2 separate regions of the Homo sapiens genome follow, and region 2 is linked to region 1. Evidence: fine-mapped expression QTL. A gene starts in region 1. The other region holds a variant in brackets. All regions are shown on one strand. Distances are from middle to middle.

Evidence for each region. PIP is the estimated chance that this variant, and not a neighbour inherited with it, causes the effect.
Region 2: its variant is the best candidate, but not a certain one, in a credible set for the expression of FBXO32 in tibial artery (GTEx, PIP 0.53).

Annotation. Positions count from the first base shown.
Region 1 is chr8:123,539,285-123,543,681 of GRCh38, reverse strand. It overlaps FBXO32 (F-box protein 32), which reads left to right and starts at 2,476. Exons shown (of 9, transcript NM_058229.4): 1 at 2,476-2,783. The coding sequence starts at 2,668. RefSeq lists silencers at 1,950-2,239, 2,330-2,439, 2,490-2,579.
Region 2 is chr8:123,598,423-123,602,819 of GRCh38, reverse strand. No RefSeq gene overlaps it. Among named protein-coding and RNA genes, the nearest start is that of KLHL38, 53 kb to the left of the region's middle. The variant G/A (reference allele first, on the strand shown) is at 2,236.

The DNA.
Region 1 (4,397 bases):
TTGTGCTTGAATTTTAGAAGTTAAAGAAACTTTCACCAACTTTGAGCCACTCAACCCTTTATAGTAGTCAGCTATCGACACAATAATGCTGTGTAACAGTAAATCACAAAAATCTCAGTGGCATCAACAAGACACATTTATTTCTTGCTAACACATCTGTGAGGTCAACGGGAGTGTCTGCTCCATGTGTCACATCCTGGGACACACGGATGTCACTCAAACCACTCCAGGAGCAGTGGCTACACAGGGTATGCTCTTTTCATGGAGCAGGTGAACACACAAAACATCAAGACCAACCAGGCAAGTACATACATCAGATCCTCTGCTCACATCACATCCATCAGCATCCCCTTGGCTAAAGCCAGTCATATGGCCAAGCCCATTGTCAAGAATTAGAAAAATACACATCACCAAAAAGTGTGGGCACATGACGCTACTGGAAAGGAGGGAAGAATGGGTACTAATAATTCAATCTACCACAGCTTTTAAACCATCCTGAAAGGTAGGCATTATTGGCTCCATTTTTTCTTGACAGTTAAGTAAATGGGGCCCTAAGAGTTTAAGTCATTCATCCAAGGGAGGACAGGTAGTATGCTGCTCCAGCAGAATTAGAATTCAAAACTTCTACCTTCTGGCCCTCTGTGGTCTCTACAGGTATGTAGCCAGCTTACTAATACATAACTAACCCACATTGTTCATAATCACATCCCAGGCGGGCATGGTGGCTCACGCCTGTAATCCCAACACTTTGGGAGGCCAAGGAAGGAGGATCACTTGAGCCCAGGAGTTTAAGACTAGCCTGGGCAAGATAGCAAAACCCTATCTCTACAAAAAATATAAAAAATTAGCCTGGTGCAGTGGTGAGTGCCTGTAGTCTCAGCTACTGGAGACTGGGGCCGAGGTGGGAGGATGGCTTGAGCTGGGGAGGCTGAGGCTACAGTGAGCCATGATCACTCACTCTAGCCTGAGTGACACAATGAGACCCTGTCTCAAAAATAATAATAATAATAATCACATCCCTTAATTATGCAGATACCAATTCCCTCCAACAGAGACCAGACCCAACACTGCCTCATTTGTTAGCACCATCACAGTGTTTAACATTTGTTTGGGACTTCTTCAATGTTTTTACAAGCTTTTTTTTTACTATTACTACACTAATAAATTATTTACGGTGGGAAATCTAAATCAGAAAGCTCTGGCTTCTTGAAAACAAACTTTATTAAAAACGTCTTCCCAGTCCAACATGTAGCCTCATAGGGCACACACAATTTCTTTGCCTGAGCCTTAAAGATTACACCGAGTCAGTGGACTAGATGATATTGATGGCTGCAGAGAAAGAAGAATGGAAGAATGAAGTTTGAAGCTAATGCTTGAGTATGGGATTTTTACTCTGCTGCTGCTGTCCTGTGCAAACTAATTGCCAAATAGACCAGGCTGTAAAGCATCATAACTAGAGGTGATGAAGGGCAAGAAGCCACCCTCATGCCAGCAGCCTCCCGTATCCATTCACTTATTCACACAAATAGTTGTTGAAGGCCTGCACTGGGCCTGGCAGGGTGCAGGGGCTGAAATGCCTCCGGAACAAGACAGACCAGCTCTCATGGAGTTCCCACTGCAGACAGGGGTAGATTGTTGTAACAACAGCAAAAAGTAAAAGCAAACAGGGTAGTTTCAGATTGTACTGTAGCATTGGCCCTGGGTACATCATTTAACCCGTCTCTTAGAGGGTTCGGGTAGGATAGGGGCGCTGTTCTTTTTCTCCACTCCCAACCTGCGGGAGCCAGATACCTCCCAGGGCTTCCTCTCCTTCCCCTCCTTTGCTGCCCCAGGGGCAGGTCTGAAGGAGGACTGGTTAGTGACAGCTAAGGGGCCCGGAGGGCTGGGAGGCTGTCCCTCCTCCCCGCTCCAACCCCCGCGCGCTAGGGCGGGGTTGGGGCAGTGAGCGAGGTCAGGAGGCTGCGCCCCCTACTCCCCGCCCGGCGGGCGCGGTGCCGGCCCCAGCTCTGCGGACGGCCCGGGAGGCTGATCTGGCTGCGGAGGTCGATCCTGATAGCTCGGGGGCAGGAGGGGGGCTGGCCCTGCTCCTCACGCCCACCCCGCAGGGACCCAGACGCCCCTCCGGCCCCCTCCCTGCACCCCGTCAGCCCGGGAGCTGCAGGAGACCGGGGCGCATCTTTCCAAGCGCCGGGCCTCGCTCTGGGACAACGGTGTCCTGGGGGCGGGGAGGGCGCGCGGAGGTGCCAGGGGCGGCGGGGTACCCGGCCCGGCAGCACCGCTTCAAGTTTCCACCGGCGCGGTTGTGCAACCGGGAGGGGAGCGTGAGCCGCAGGCGCCTCGGAAAACAAGCCGAGCCCATAAACAAAGCCACGTGGCCTCCGGGCCGGGGGGCCGGGCTAAGAGCGGGCGGCTCTTCCGGCAACAAAGAGCTGCGGCCGGCTGCGGGGATAAATACTGCGGCAGCTACTGCCGCGCAGCACTCCCGGAGCCTGCAACGCTTGAGATCCTCTCCGCGCCCGCCACCCCGCAGGGTGCCCCGCGCCGTTCCCGCCGCCCCGCCGCCCCCGTCGCGGGCCCCTGCACCCCGAGCATCCGCCCCGGGTGGCACGTCCCCGAGCCCACCAGGCCGGCCCCGTCTCCCCATCCGTCTAGTCCGCTCGCGGTGCCATGCCATTCCTCGGGCAGGACTGGCGGTCCCCCGGGCAGAACTGGGTGAAGACGGCCGACGGCTGGAAGCGCTTCCTGGATGAGAAGAGCGGCAGTTTCGTGAGCGACCTCAGCAGGTGAGGGGACCCGCTACCAACTTCCAGCCCCCGCGAAACTGACCCGGGCTGGTCTGGGGGGCGCAGGGACGGCGAATGAGGGGCAGGCAGGGCTGGAGCGGGCTGAGGAGGGAGACCCTGACCCGGAGGGTGGGACTACGGGGCCCGATTTCTGCAGAGGTCTTCGGACCACCGGAGACAGGGAATTCGGTTTCTCTTATTGTTCAAGGTCAGTGTCTCCAAGTGGACACGACTCCTTACAGAACACCTGGTCCCTCTGAGAGTCTGATGACATTCGCGGATCGTGTCCCCAAACGTTCGCTCAAACTTAATCACACAGCTTTAGTGGTCCCTGCTTTAAGGACACCGGAGTCGCGCACTTTGCCCATGTGGGGGCGCGGGCGGGTGGGCTGAGCCCCTTCACCGCGGGGTGGCCCGGCTCCCAGCGCCCAAGCGCTGTGGACGCGACAGGTGACGGGATCCGACGAAGGTCCCGCCTGGAGCGCTTCCAGGCCCTGCCCAGGCACGGGCAACCACGAAGTGGCCGGGAGGATGAGTAACCAGGAAGGGACGGCCAGATGGTCCCTGGGGCAGCCGCTTACTGGGCGGACTTGCGAGCGGTGGAGGCTTGGGGCTGCAGAGGTGCAAAGGAGGGAAGGGGGCAGGGGATGAATCCCACAAGAGCTCTGCTTCTGGGAGGACAGGGCTCTTGCACCTGTTTCCTCGGTGGCCCTCTCGGTCGGTCTGCTTTGTATAGAGTGCACTCCGTTTCCAGGGGTGCCTGTCAGCTGCGAAAAGCCTGCCTGGCCCCGGTGAGCCTCTGGATTCGAGGCCTCACCTGAGCTCTGTGGTCTGGCGGGAAACCTGAGGTCCGCTGCGCTCCCTGCTCAGCTTGGCTAACGATGCCAGCGCCGGCTAGTACGCAAGGTAGCCTGGAATTTCTCAGCCCCTGACCTCGACAGTTGACTTTCAGAGACTCTCAGCATTTAGCCCGGTGAGCGGGGGCGATGAAAGTGATTCCAGAATGGACTGGTGCAGCCAGAGTCACCCTTGGGAGCCTTTTCCTGCCACCTTTGGTTAAAACCATGGGCCCCTGCACCCTTAAATTGACTTCAATGGAGAATTCTGTTTCTGGGCCAGGTTCCCGCTTACTGAGATTTACCAGTCGTTGCTTGGATGAAGCATTGGCAATAAATTTTGAGAAAACTATCAAGAAAATGTGGTTATTTTGGCAACTTGAACTCCCGTGCCTCCCATTTGTTTGTGATTTGTAATGCATCAAATTCCCATTGTCTCACAATGTAAAGAAAGACATTATTTAATTCTGGGGGTCTGTCCGGAGAGACTTGAGCGTATTAACCACCAGCATATAACCATTTACGTTGGAGTTACTTGGAGGCTGTCCCAGGGGAGTTTAGGGACCACCATAAGGAAATCTTATTTACGTAAAATCAAGTAATTTATTTACGGGAAAGTAAGACCAACTGCTATTGACAGACTATGTCTTTTATCGACTGGAGTTACCAATTATGCCTAAATTATTCTCCCTCAACAAAATGGGAACCTTCCTTCCTTCCTCCTTGTTCCTAAGGACAATGATCTAATATGTTGGTACTTTATTTCTGTATACAAGTT
Region 2 (4,397 bases), 59 kb before region 1:
CAGTCTTTTCATCCACACAGTAGGGATAACAATAATATCTTCCTCCTAAAATTGTCATAAGGATTAAATGAGAAAATTCACATAAAGTGCTTAGCAAGGTGCCAAGCACATCATAAATATTCAATAAAAAATAATCATAGTGAGTTAGAGTAAGTACTCAAAAAACGTTAGCTGGTTTTGTTTGTTGGTGGTGGTTCTGTTGCTTTTGAGTGATTTAACCCCTAATAAGGAGTTAAATGTTTGAATACCTCCAGGATAAGGAAGTTTCAATCTTACTGATATTCTATTCTATAGTTGGCCAACCTTAATTTGATTTGAGACATCCTGGAAGCACTTAGGTTCTTAGCACTGTTTTAAGCACCTTATATGTATATTTCACTTAATTTGCACAACAGGATTCAAAACCAGATCTTTCTGCTGCTAGAATCTATACTTTTTCCCCAGTGAGACACTCTTCTTCCTGACAAATTCAATCATTTTTTCTAGTTCTGCTCTCAGGAAGGACTTAGAGGAAGTCAGCTCCTCTCCTACATGGTGGTTTCCTCCAAATTGAATGGCAAACTCTCCAGAGGTGCTGATCACACTGGGAGTTTGTCTCCTCACCTGGTTGGGGCTATTGGGAAAGTCAGGGGCTGGCAGTGTCAGAATGGCCTCAGGGTTCACTGGCTCCACTACTTACAGCCAGAAACCTCCTCCCAGAGAGATCTTTAATCTAAAGTTATTTCCATAATGTCCAGGGAAGCAACTTTTCTGCCAGTAAAACAAGGATCTGTTGATCCCATAGTCCCAGGATAGAATCCTAATACATGACTTTCTGCCTCAAATGGATGTGCTGTCCTTTCTTCATTCAACCAGAAAGCTGTTAGTATTTGCCAAGTACACAGGCACCCAGGGGAGTGTCAAGGAAATAGAAGGTCTGGTGCCTAAGAACATAAGGACACCTTATAAGGACACTCTAAGAGCCTATGTGGCCTCAGATAAATCACTTCACCATCCTAACCCTCAGCTTTCTCTATGTGAAATGGGGATAGGAATAATTCCCAATGCAAGGATTGAATGAGATGATGCTAGTGATTATTATGGAAGGTATTCACATAGATTCCCTTCTTCCTTGTCATCAGAACCCCAGTTTTGTTCAGGAAAGTACCTGCTCCAAGACTATGAATTAAAATATATCTGATATGGTTAAGACCATCATCTTCCTCTCCACCAAGATGCTCACTTTCCCAGCCTCCCTTATGCCTAGGGATCCCCATTTGATCTTGTTCTGACTAATGAGAGGTAAAGAGAAGTCATCTGGAAGTCTTCTGGGAAACTTTTTGGTTTCCTGTAAAAGGAACAGGCATGAAGTCATACATAGAAGCGCTTTCACCTCATCCCACCCCACCTACAAATACATACACTGTATCTTCTTTGAATTCAGATGCAATGCCTGGAGCTGGGGTAGCCACCTTGTGACCAAGAAGCAGTAAGTTTGAAGGCAACAGTCAAAAGCTAAGTAGAGAGAGGCAGAAATGAAGAATGACCCTGGATACTTGACGAGACATTAGAGCTGATAAATCAACCTCAAAATACCTACCTCATAGTTCTCAAGTGAGATTATAAATGCTTGAGTACTTAAGCCACTAGTGTCAGTTTTTCTGAATAATTGACTTGATGCTATCATCTATTGTTACCATTCACTCCAAGCTCCCATCACTGATCCTTCTATGACTTTGAGGGGTGAACCATGTCTCTGAGTACCAAAGGGGCTTTTGAGGGACATTACTTTAACCAAGGCATACACAGTAAAGTCAAGCCCCTCTATTATTTTCCATAAAGTCCTCCTATACAAAGAACCCCAGCAGAGTCTGCAAATGAGGGGCCTTTAGTCCTATGTGGTTTACACAACGCTTCTCAGGGAGTATTCCAGTATGACACCATATATGCAGGCTCATGGGTCAACTGCATTCTCCATATGTCTCATATGTTGTGCTGACACCATTCTAGGTGTATCCTGGGCATTCTGCTCTGTTTCAATGGGAAAACTTCTCCTGACTCTGAGAATCAGGTTTCACAATTACCCATTGTATTAGTCCATTTTCACACTGCTGATAAAGACATATCCAAAACTGGGTAATTTATAAAGAAAAAGAAGTTTAATGGACTCAGAGTTCCATGTGGTTAGGGATGCCTCACAATCATGGCAGAAGGCAAAAGGCACATCTTATATGACAGCAGGCAAGACAGAATGAC[G/A]ACCAAGTGAAAAGGGTTTCTCCTCATAAAACCATCAGATCTTGTGAGATTTATTCACTATCATGAGAACAGTGGGAGGGAAACTGCTCCCATGATTCAATTATCTTCCACTGTGTCCCTCCCACAACACGTGTGAATTATGGGAGCTACAATTCAAGATGAGATTTGGGTGGGGACACAGCCAAACCATATCACACACGAAGACAGAGGAGGGATCTGAACATGGGAGCAAATGCATAGAAAATGCTCAGCACAGTAGCTGGTACCTGACAGTTTCTCAATAAAAGGCAGCTATTATTCTCATGATGATCAGGACCATTCTCATTATAGAACACAATTGCTGTCACTTCTAAATTCAGCTACTCCACAAAGGGATCACAGGCCCTGCACTTCCAAGCCCACCCACTGTCTGTGACTTGGATATTAGGATTATTTCTCACATAGCATGCTTCCAGAGCAGGAGGGGCCTGGCAGGTTGTGGTAGGTGAGCAGGTGCCTGAATAGGCTACACAGAGAAGGAGGCAGCACTTAGCCTGACCATTCAGAAGATGAGTCAAGGCCATGGTAAAGAAATCATACACTGTCTTCCAAACCTAAGCTGAATGTCAAGATGAATTTTATATCATTCATCACCCAACAAGTATTCATTGAGGCACAAGGCAGGTGCTCAAAACTGTACTGAAAAGAAAAACCCTAAAAAACAAGACAGAGAGTGGGATGTATACTGCAGAGAGTATTTGTGGCTTGACTGAAAGAATTATGCCAGGAAAACATCCTCAGGTTTTAGCTGCTCACTTTCCTGGAATTCTAACTGAGTTACCAAGCTAGAAGATCCTGGAAGACACACACCAAGCTTGCCAACAGAGTGCTCCTCTAAAATACACCCTGCAGCTCTGTAAACAAGCCAACCCCATACATCCAAATGACCATGTGCTGAGACCATGTCTACGTGGTGCTTTCTGCCCACGGGGAGCCACCCTCGTGAGTGGTAGAGTGGGTGCACAGAGCGAAGGATGGAAACCAGGAGACATTTTCTCCACCAGCCCCCACCCCCCACTGAATTGCTGCCTGTCTCCCTGTGGATCACTGAGCCCCCCAGACCCCCATTTCCCCACCTATCAAGTGAAGGGGCTGGATTCCATGGCCCCTGTGATGATTAACTTTATGTATCCACTTGGCTGGGACGCAATGCCAGAAAAGTGGTCAAACAGTATGCTGTATGTTTCTGTGAAGGTGTTTTGTGGATGAGATTTACATTAAAATCTGTGGGCTTTGAGGAAAGCAGATGACCCTCCATCATGCAGGCAGGCCTCACCCAATCAGTGGAAGGCCTGAATAGAACAGACTGGCCTCCCCACACAAGAAGGCATCCTGCCAGCCGACAGCCTTTGGTTGGACTCAGACTGCAATTCTTCCCTGAGCCTCCATCCTGCCGGCCCACTCCAGATTTTAGACTCCCCAAGCCGCTACAATCATGTGAGCCAATTTCTTTTATATATATATATATATAATATATAATATATTATATATATAATATATATAATATATAATATATATAATATATATAATATATTATATATATTATATATAATATATAATATATATATATTATATATATATAAAATACTTTTTTCTTTTATATATATTTATATATATATATTATACTTTAAGTTCTAGGGTACATGTGCACAACGTGCAGATTTGTTACATATGTATACATGTGCCATGTTGGTGTGCTGCACCCATTAACTCGTCATATAACATTAGGTATATCTCCTAATGCTATCCCTCCCCACTCCCCGTACCCTACAACAGGCCCCGGTGTGTGATGTTCCCCTTCCTGTGTCCAAGTGTTCTCATTGTTCAGTTCCCACCTATGAGTGAGAATATGCAGTGTTTGGTTTTTTGTCCTTGCGATAGTTTGCTGAGAATGATGGTTTCCAGCTTCATCCATGTCCCTACAAAGGACATGAACTCATCCTTTTTTATGGCTGCATAGTATTCCATGGTGTATATGTGCCACATTTTCTTAATCCAGTCTATCATTGTTGGACATTTGGGTTGGTTCCAAGTCTTTGCTATTGTGAATAGTGCCACAATAAACATACGTGTGCATGTGTCTTTATAGCAGCATGACTTATAATTCTTTGGGTATATACCAG